2 separate regions of the Homo sapiens genome follow, and region 2 is linked to region 1. The links come from fine-mapping of genetic effects on plasma protein levels. A gene starts in region 1. The other region holds a variant in brackets. All regions are shown on one strand. Distances are from middle to middle. Region 1 holds the start of IMPA1 (inositol monophosphatase 1). Region 2 overlaps FABP12 (fatty acid binding protein 12).

Evidence for each region. A credible set is the group of variants that fine-mapping cannot tell apart. PIP is the posterior inclusion probability: the model's chance that the variant is causal. Protein levels are from antibody-based Olink assays in UK Biobank. Linkage for the fine-mapping came from a reference panel and not from the study's own genotypes, which makes the PIPs less certain.
Region 2: its variant is the best candidate, but not a certain one, in a credible set for the plasma level of the IMPA1 protein (UK Biobank, PIP 0.59).

What each region holds. Positions count from the first base shown.
Region 1 is chr8:81,683,909-81,689,307 of GRCh38, reverse strand. It overlaps IMPA1 (inositol monophosphatase 1), which reads left to right and starts at 2,983. Exons shown (of 9, transcript NM_005536.4): 1 at 2,983-3,056. RefSeq lists an enhancer at 2,737-3,237.
Region 2 is chr8:81,526,652-81,532,050 of GRCh38, reverse strand. It overlaps FABP12 (fatty acid binding protein 12), which reads left to right. Exons shown (of 5, transcript NM_001105281.6): 2 at 661-808; 3 at 2,441-2,613; 4 at 4,930-5,031. The coding sequence starts at 736. The region is part of intron 3 of LOC101927118 (a long non-coding RNA gene); the gene reads right to left. Among named protein-coding and RNA genes, the nearest start is that of FABP12, 4.5 kb to the left of the region's middle. The variant G/C (reference allele first, on the strand shown) is at 2,727.

The DNA of each region.
Region 1 (5,399 bases):
GAAAAACTGGACTTCCTGCTCACCTGACATAGGAAGCTTGTAAGGTTTTCATTTGAAGGGATATTTGATATTTAGTTTATTTTACTTCAAATTGTTTATGCTGATTTTAGCAGTTTTTTCAAGTCACTGAAACCACATTCATTTACATAAACTTAGATGACCGATGACTTTTCTGTTAAAACTTTGGAAATATTAGTTGGTTACGAATGAGCACTTGTCAGCATGCGGTTGGCAATATTTTTATTTTAAGAAGATTGGCAATGAAGAACCGAAAAACTAGCCTCAGAAGCCTTTTTTTTTTTTCTAAGAAAATAAAGTATCATTTGATAGACATCCAAACCGGATACCTAAGGCATCACTCTTTTTGGATTAAAGATGTTTATTGGTCCTTGTGAGGTGTGAGAATTGAGTCCAGTCCAAATTACTCATCTCTAAGACATTTCATTTGAAATATATTGGTGACATTTTGTCTTTTGATTAAACAAACAGAAACAGTAACTTCCTAAGCAAAGAGCCAAATAACTAACTTACTTTCCTGGTCCAGTTGTAGCTAGGACATCTTATATCTGTGCAATGCTTTTTGCACTATGATGGTGTATGTACCACGATGTCGCTCTTTCTTTCTTTCTTTCTTTCTTTCTTTTTTGAGATGGAGTTTCACTTTTGTTACCCAGGCTGGAGTGCAATGGCGCTATCTCGGCTCACTTCAACCTCCACCTCCGGGGTTCAAACGATTCTCCTGCCTCAGCCTCCCTCGTAGCTGGGATTACAGGCACCCACCACCATGCCTGGCTAATTTTTGTATTTTTAGTAGAGACAGAGTTTCACCATGTTGACCAGGCTGGTCTTGAACTTCTGACCTCAGGTGATCTGCCTGCCTTGGCCTCCCAAAGTGATGGGATTACAGGCATGAGCCACTGCACCTGGCCAACTCTTTCAAGAAGAAGAAACATTTTAAGACCATAACTAGTCCTTGTACCTCATATAATGTGATCTCATTGTGCCATATATTCTCAGTGTGTAAACTTTTGTAGGGCCAAAGAAAAAACTTCCCTTTTGTCCTCTGAAGGTTTGGTGAAAATCAACTGACAAAAGGCAGATAAATAGAAGAAAAGGATTTTATTTGATCATAGTTTTATGTGACTTGGGAGCCTTCAGAATGAAGACCCAAAGGTATAAGGGGACAGTCCATTTTATGCTTAGTTTCAACAGCATATGGACAGCTGTGTAGAATATGGTTGGACAAAGAGGGTATAACCTAATGCTATTAGACTGGGGAAATCCAGTAAGACCTGTCTGCTTAGATTCTTCTTGGCCTCTCTCCATAGGACCCTCTTTGGAATGGGGGTCTTATGACCTAAACTCAGACAGGGTGAGTCATATAATTTCTTCGTGGTCAGATTTTACATAGAAACACAGGGAGAATGCTAGAGTAATATCTATCTATCTATCTATCTATCTATCTATCTATCTATCTATCTATCTATCTATATCTCTCTCTCTATATATATATATTTTTTTTTTGAGACGGAGGCTCCCTCTGTCGCCCAGGCTGGAGTGCAGTGGCGCGATCTCCACTCACTGGAAGCTCCACCTCCCAGGTTCATGCCATTCTCCTGCCTCAGCCTCCCGAGTAGCTGGGACTGCAGGTGCCAGCCACCACACCCGGCTAATTTTTTTGTGTTTTTAATAGAAACGGGGCTTCACCGTGTTAGCCAGGACGGTCTCGATCTCCTGACCTCGTGATCCGCCTGCCTTGGCCTCCCAAAGTGGTGGGATTACAGGCGTGAGCCACCTTGCCTGGCCTAGAGTAGTATTTTTATGTTTTATGGCTGGCTTTATAAAAAAGGGGTCCTGATTTCTGGGACCTGATTTGGGAAAGAGGAATTCTAGCTTCTATGACTAGTCTGGGGAAGAATGTGGGACCAGAGACAGGAGACCAAAAGGAGTCAGAGGAAAATTTTTCCTTCTAAGGCTGCTTCTGAGGCCTTCATTGTGGGGTATCATTTTCTGAACCCCAAAACTTTGAACTCAGTGTGTTTCACTCTCTGCTCTTGCTGTGTGACCTGAGGACAAATCACTTAACTACTCTGAGCCTCAGTTTCCTCATCTGTCTGACAAAGCTAATCATACCTTTTTCAAGAAACTGTTAAAACTTTAAGGAAAATAATGCATATAAAAACACATTTCGGCCAGGCGTGGTGGCTCATGCCTGTAATCTTTGGGAGGCCGAGGTAGGCGGATCACTTGAGTCCAGGAGTTTGAGACCAGCCTGAGCAACATGGTGAAACCCCGTCTCTACAAGATACAAAAATTAGCCGGGCGTTGTGGCAGGCGTCTGTAATCCCAGCTACTCAGGAGGCTGAGGCATGAGAATCGCTTGAATCCAAGAGGCGGACGTTGCAGTGAGCCGAGATCGCGCCATTGCACTTCAGCCCGGGCGACAAAAGTGAAATTCCGTCTCAAAAAAACAAAACAATAAAACCCCACACAATTGCTTGAAGCATAGTAAGTCCTCAATAAATAGTATGTAAGTAAATTATCAAGAATTGGGCAGTTGGTTCTGGTTATCAGTTTATTTTTTTTTAATCTAGTATAGGTTTACCAGCTTTAGGTTAGCACCTAAAAGCTGCATAATCGGAATCATATCTGCAATCTGGGTTTTGTCAAAATAGTACTATAGAATAAATGGGAGAAAGAAGAAAGCAAGCTAAATGGGAAACCGTGAATGAATGGAGGACGAAAGAAGAAAAAGGCAAAGTAAAGAGAGAAGTAATGTTTAAAAACTGAGAGATGAAAAGACAAGCAGGAGAAAAGAACCAGAAGCTAGAATGAAGAGGCAGTATCCCATGCTCCAGCGCGGGTCAGGACCCGGCCCGGCCTGGCAGAGGCTCGCAGGGCGCAGCTCGGGGCGGGGCCCAGCAAAGCAACCACGCCCCCTCAGGAATGGAGTTTTTAAGGGCGGAACTTCCTGTTGCGAGTAGCCCCTCTACCTCCGGAAGAGACGAGTGCGGTAACACCGTTCACAGAGCTAGCCGGACGTCCTCCGACTCAAGGTGAGACCGTTATTTTCCTCACCGCACCCTCCGGGTTCAGCGGGCGCTGTGGGTTTCCAGGGAGGCCCCTTCCCTCCTCAGGAGCGGGCGCGAGCGCCGTGCGCGGTCGGCGCCTAGGGTGGAGGCAGCCTCTGGGTGACCCCTGCCTGCTGCGTTATCCGGAGCTGCCCTGGGCGACCGGGAACAGTTCCGGCATTGGAGTAGCGGTTCGCTCACGCGACCTCACTTAACCTCTGTGGCGGCTTCTGTGGAATAATTGCCCCTTTTTATGTCCCCAACTCCGAAAAGCTCCTAGAAACTTGGTGCATCCCCAGGCCCAGGTAGTCACTCTAAGTGATGGGGCAGCGCCCAGGTCCTGTGCTGCCCGCAGTCGCGGTGCTGGGACAGGTGGCAAAAAGGAAGGTGGCCTGGCTCCTACGCTGGAAGGCTGTGACCAGGACAGAAACAGCAGGAAACAGTTCAGGTGTTTATGGCTTTGGGAAAATGAAAGTGAGTAAACTACGGACCCTGCCCATCAATAAATGTACTGTGATTTATATATATATAACTATTCATATATTATATATAACTATATATAAAAATATATATAAAATGTACTTATATACTTTATATATAGTACATAAATATACTTATGTATAGTATATATACTTATATATAGTACATAAATATACTTCTGTATACTTATATATAGTACATAAATATACTTACGTATATATACTTATATATAGTACAGAAATATACTTACGTATATATACTTATATATAGTACAGAAATATACTTAGGTATATATACTTATATATAGTACAGAAATATACTTAGGTATACATACTTATATATAGTACCTAAATATACTTAGGTATATATACTTATATATAGTACATAAATATACTTACATATATACTTACATATAGTATATAAATATACTATATGTATAGTACATAAATATACTATGTATAGTATATATACTATATATACTATATATAGTATCTATACTTATGTATAGTATATATAGTATCTAAATATACTTATGTATAGTATATATAGTATCTAAATATACTTATGTATAGTATATATAGTATCTAAATATACTTATGTATAGTATATATACTATATATAGTATCTAAATATACTTAATGTATACTATATATAGTATCTAAATATACTTATTTATAGTATATATATCTAAATATACTTATGTATAGTATATATACTATATATAGTATCTAAATATACTTACGTATAGTATATATAGTATCTAAATATACTTATGTATAGTATATATACTATACATAGTATCTAAATATACTTATGTATAGTATATATACTATACATAGTATCTAAATATACTTATGTATAGTATATATACTATACATAGTATCTAAATATACTTATGTATAGTATATATACTACACATAGATACTATGTATAGTATATATACTCCACATAGTATCTAAATATACTTATGTGTAGTATATATACTCCACATAGTATCTAAATATACTTATGTGTAGTATATATACTCCACATAGTATCTAAATATACTTATGTGTAGTATTTATACTCCACATAGTATCTAAATATACTTATGTGTAGTATATATACTTATGTGTAGTATATATACTTATGTGTAGTATATATATACTAGATATATATATCTAAAGATACTTATGTGTAGTATATATACTACACATTAGTATCTAAAGATACTTATGTGTAGTATATATACTACACATAGTATCTAAAGATACTTATGTGTAGTATACTGTAGTATCTAAAGATACTGTGTGTAGTATACTATATATAGTATCTAAATATACTTATGTATAGTATACTATATATAGTATCTAAATATGTATGGTATATATACTATATATAGTATCTAAATATACTTATGTATGGTATATATACTATATATAGTATCTAAATATACTTATGTATGGTATATATACTATATATAGTATCTAAATATACTTATGTATGGTATACTATATATAGTATCTAAATATACTTATGTATGGTATATATACTATATATAGTATCTAAATATATAGTATATAAAGTATATTTACTGTATTATATATGTGTATGTGTGTGTATGTGTGTGTGTGTGTGTATGTGTGTATGTGTGTGTGTGTGTATATATATATATATATAGTTTGCATCCACCATTCCTGGCTCATAACTCCCATAGCCCTTGACAGGAATCTTGGCCCACCTTTCTGTCTTAGAACTAGCCATGAAGAAATTCTCTGACCTACCTTGTCTGACTGTAGATCGTAAGACCTCCATTTCACAAGGGGTCTTGCCCCATATACAGGAGAAAGGAATGCTGGACAGAGAGGC
Region 2 (5,399 bases), 160 kb after region 1:
TTTGGTGTTCTCATGGCAATGATGGCTCTCTAAACCGTTGGGAAGTTGAGCTGGCACCTGGAAAAGTGTCAGTAACAGGGCTGTGTGTGTGTGTGTGTGTGTGTGTGCATGTGTTTGTAACATGATCTCTTTCCTTTCTTTTTTCTCTGTCCCATTCTCTTTTTCATTGTGCACATGACTTAAAGTGGTTGTTCTAGCCCTTACTAAACTTAACTTTTTACTTCAAATGTCAAGTACCATCTATGAAGTCTGTCTGGTGTTTAGTTGAAACTATCAAGAATGAGAATGATCTTCAAACAGCCAATAAATTGGCTTTTTCTGAATCATCTTTGGACAGACAGAGAGAGAGACCTGGGCACAAAAGTTCCACGGCATAAACACAGCTGTCCAGGCCCAGCTCTTACACACTGCTTTGTGCCTGGCAGGTCCTAGGGAAGGAAAGTAACATTTAGTTTTGATGCTAAATTGGTGTTGGAAAAGGTATATCTAGTTCTGCTAAACACTCTACTGTGTTTCCATTTTCATCCTGATGTATTTAAATTTAAGAAAGCTTTTCTGCTTTAGATGATACTCAAGGAACATTGCAAGGATTAGAGTTCCTTATTTTATTTCCTAACTTTTCTCATCTCATTCTCTACCCAAAATTGTATTAAAAACAAGTTCCCATACTACTTCAGGGAAAACCAGCATACACATGAAACTACTGTTCTTTGAGATCAACTTATCTCAGACAGAATGATTGACCAGCTCCAAGGAACATGGAAGTCCATTTCTTGTGAAAATTCCGAAGACTACATGAAGGAGCTGGGTGAGCTATGTTTACTTGCATATCATATCCAGTAAAAATGGGCATTTTGATAGCACAGAACTTGCTCTGTATAAAATAATATTAATCTTGAACTCCCTAATTTTTCACATAGGAAAAAATAAATATTGATTGAGTACCAGGATATAGTTCTGTGCAAAACTATGTTGGAGTTGACAATAATCTCTCATATAAGTTACCATTAATTTACATAAACTAACTAAACAGCAAGTGATTTTAATAAATGTTTTAAAACAAAAAAATACAACTATTTTTTAAAATGATTATTTTGTAAATGTTTGCTCTAAGCTTTAGGGGATCTTCAGAATAAAGTTCAGAGTAGATTTTGTTTTTCAGCCTCTGCTGGCTACTGGCTTTCCTTAGTGTGTGCCAGCAATGCTCCAAATTTTGCTCCCATTTTCACACTGCTCTCTCTTCTTCTGTAGTATAGCATCCCTCTTCCTCCCTCTTAAAAGGAAATTTATGATTATGTTTGAGATCTGCTCTGATAATCCAGGATACTCTCCCCATCTCAAGATCCTTAAATTAACCACATCTGTACAGTCTCCTAACATGTAAAGGTAACATTCACAGGTTCCAGGGATTAAGACGTGAATATCTTTAGGAACCATTATCCAATCTGTCACATCCTGTGATTGTGTTTTATGATATGAATTCCATGAACTACATTATAGTATTTTCCCAATATATCTTCCCTTAGAATTTTAACTTAGGTATTGCAGTATATGTAATGCTATTTCTACTGAAAATACTCCTACATGTGCTGCACAGAGCTGTGTATACAAGGATGTTCACTGCATAATTATTTGTAATAACCAAAATGGAAACAAATGAATTGTTCATCAACAGGGAGACAGACAAAATAAATTTTGGTCTATACACACTGTGGAATATTATGTACTATGAAAAAGTATATATCTATATAGAGTGACATGGAAAATTTTCAAGACATAGATAAGGGGAAAACTTCCAAGACAAGATAAGGGGAAAAAGCAAGTTGAAAAACAGTAGATATAACATATTTTTTAAAATCCTATAAATAATGGTGATGCTTGCACAACATTGTGATGTTCTCAATACCACTGAATTGTAACTTCAAATGGTAAATATATGTTATAAATATTTTACCACAATAAAAACATACATCATTGAGGAAACAAACCCATATATATATACATGTAAGAATACAAGTGAAGAGCTAAATATCTGGCAAAATCCATACCAAAGTATTTTGTTTGTATGTGAGTGGATATAATTTTAAAATAGGGAGATAGTTGATAGCTTTAATCAGATTTTCAAAGGGGTTCAAAAATCAGTAAGATTAATAGCTACTGGACTAGTGAAAAAGAATACTCACTAAACAACAACTAGAGACAGATTTTTTTTCTGCAAAGATAGTCTATTTTAACATGTCATGGTGGAGCTGCTGGCTTGGGATATGTGAAGTCATGCACCATTAAATCTGTTCAATTCGCAAACCTCCTAGTTAGCAAAGAATTATACAGATAATGTTGAGTTTTTGGAGTCAACAACAGATTTAAGTATTGTATTGTAATGTAATGTATTTGTAATTCTTTATGCAAAAAGATAATACTCCTTTTATCTGGTTTCCAGGTATAGGAAGAGCCAGCAGGAAACTGGGCCGTTTGGCAAAACCCACTGTGACCATCAGTACAGATGGAGATGTCATCACAATAAAAACCAAAAGCATCTTTAAAAATAATGAGATCTCCTTTAAGCTGGGAGAAGAGTTTGAGGAAATCACGCCAGGTGGCCACAAAACAAAGGTGAGGCCTACGACAGTCTTTCAGACACATTTCAAAAGAATGTTAGTCAGATATCATCCTCGGTAAGTAAGCAATTCTAGCAAACATATCTAAAGTCCTTAAGAGGAACTTTT[G/C]TCTAAAACATAGGTCTAAGGATGTCAATGTGAAGATACAAATCTTCTGGGATGCTTGTGAAAAATGCCTCCTGCTCACTGCCAGAGGCCCTGAAAATTGCATTTTTAATGAATCTGATGCAGACGCTTAGCAGACCACATTTTGAGAATCATTTCCCTAGATTACTGTTTAGTCCTCTCAGAAACAAAAGTTTTCCCTATCCATTTTGTAGCAGTTTTCTACACATAGAATTACAGTGAATAAACCTCGTATTAGCTGGCAGAGGTAAGGTTATGCCACCGTGACAATGAACCACAAGCCTGGAGTGAGTTAACACAATGGGGATTTATTTCTAACTTATAGTACATACGTAGTGTTGGGTGGCATTGGGGAAGTTTGTGTGTGTGTAGTGGAGTAAACAGGAAATCTGCTCCCCCTAATCTCTCAGGGATCCATGCCAAAAGAGGTTCAACTACCACCTGTGGACATCCTGGTCTTCTCCAACACCAGGATAAAGAGACATGGGCTTTTTATTGTCTCACCCTGAAAGTGCCACACAGAGTTTTCATTCATATCTCAAGGGCACATATCTCAGGAATATATTATTTATTTATAATATGTAATTTACTTCTACACGTATTGTTTACAGTCTTTTTCCCTACACCAGAATGTAAGAGCTCATCCAAAACAGGATTTCCTGTCTGTTTCACAGAACCCCGTGCTTGGTCATGACAGTTGTTCAATAAATATTTATTATTTGAATGAATGAACTCAATAGAGGATTGTTAAACTATATGGAGGATAATATCCTGATAAAAGGAACTATCATGCCACTGTAATAGTTACTAAATGAATATGAGAGTTTAAATTCTTGTACCATATAAAATGGAAGAAAATTTTTGACTTAAATGCTTAATATGGATTTCTATGCTAAATTCTTAAAAATCTACTAGAATAAAAAAGCTAGGTTGGGTGCGGTAGCTCATGCCTGTAATCCCAGCACTTTGGGAGGCCAAAACAGGAGGATTGCTTGATGCCAGGAGTCTACGACCAGCCTGAACAACATAGCAGGATCCCGCCTCTACAAAAAACACAAAGATTAGCCACTGTGGTGGTGCGTGCCTATAGTTCCAGCTACTCAGGAGGCTAAGGTGGGAGGATTGCTGGAGCACAGGAGGTTGAAGCTACAGTGAGCCATGATTGCACCACTGCATTCCAGCCTGGATGACACAGTGATACCCTATCTCCAAAAACAACAACAACAACAAAAAAAACTGGAAAATATTATTGGGATAAGAAGAGGAAAGAGGCCTTCTTTCTTTTAAGTAAGCTCATATAATGGGAGTTTGAATTAGTTTCACATGTATTATTATTATTATTATTCTTTATTGAGACAGGGTCTCTGTTGCCCAGGCTGGAGTGCGGTGGTACAATCTTGGCTCATTGTAGCCTCAACCACCCAGGCTCAGGTGATTCTCCCACCTCAACTTCCCAAGTAGCTGGGACTATAGGCATGTGCCACAACACCTGGCTAATTTATTATTTTTTATGGAGATGGGGGTCTCACTGTGCTGTCCAGGCTGGAGTTTCACACTTATTTTGAAAGTTAAAATGTATTTGTAATTCTTTATGCAAAAAGATAATACTCTGCTTACACAGTCAAAGATAAAAAGAACATTTCATGGCCGGGTGTGGTGGCTCATGCCTGTAATCCCAGTGCTTTGGGAGGCCAATGTGGGCAGATCACAAGGTCAGGAGATTCAAGACCATCCTGGCCAACATGGTGAAACCCCGTCTTTACTAAAAATACAAAAATTAGCTGGGCGTGGTGGTATGTGCCTGTAATCCCAGCTATTTGGGAGGCTGAGGCAGGAGAATTGCTTGAACCAGAGAGTCGGAGGTTGCAGTGAGCCAAGATCGCACCATTGCACTCCAGCCTGGGTGACAAGAGCAAAACTCTGTCTCAAAAAAAAAGAAAAAGAAAGAACATTTTACTTATTCTTCAAGATAATATTACAGTTTTACTCTTGTAAAACCTTTTTTCTTCAGCAGAATTAGGCAACAATTTTACTGCTGACAAAGTCTTAAAATAAATAGAGTTGTCAATACCATTCTAAAACTACCTGAGAGTATTACAACAGCTAAAAAGAATTTGCTGCCTGATAAAATTTTAATGTTGAAATATGACAAGCTGATCTGAATTTAGTTTTTTCTGTTTTTCAGAGTAAAGTAACCTTAGATAAGGAGTCCCTGATTCAAGTTCAGGACTGGGATGGCAAAGAAACCACCATAACGAGAAAGCTGGTGGATGGGAAAATGGTGGTGGTGAGTTAGCCCATCCTCGCTTTCTTCCCACCTTCTGCAACGACTAATATAAAATCACAACTTGTTCTCAAACAATGAAAATGAATGCCATTTTCCTTGTTCTCATAGTTTAAAGAATGAGAAAAAAATTATGAGATAAATGTATAATCGTAAGCATTATATAAAATGTGTGTGGATTGAGGAACTAAAAAACTAAAGAGAATGAAAATATCATGCAGCCTAATCCTTTGACTCACAGGTAAAACAAAGCAAGCATGTATTTGTGCAATGAAGATTTTAGCAGGGGTTGAGGGTTGTTGCCAATCCTCTACTCCACTCCAGGATTAACTTCTCACTGTTTTTCCATCTCAACACCAAACAAAAACATG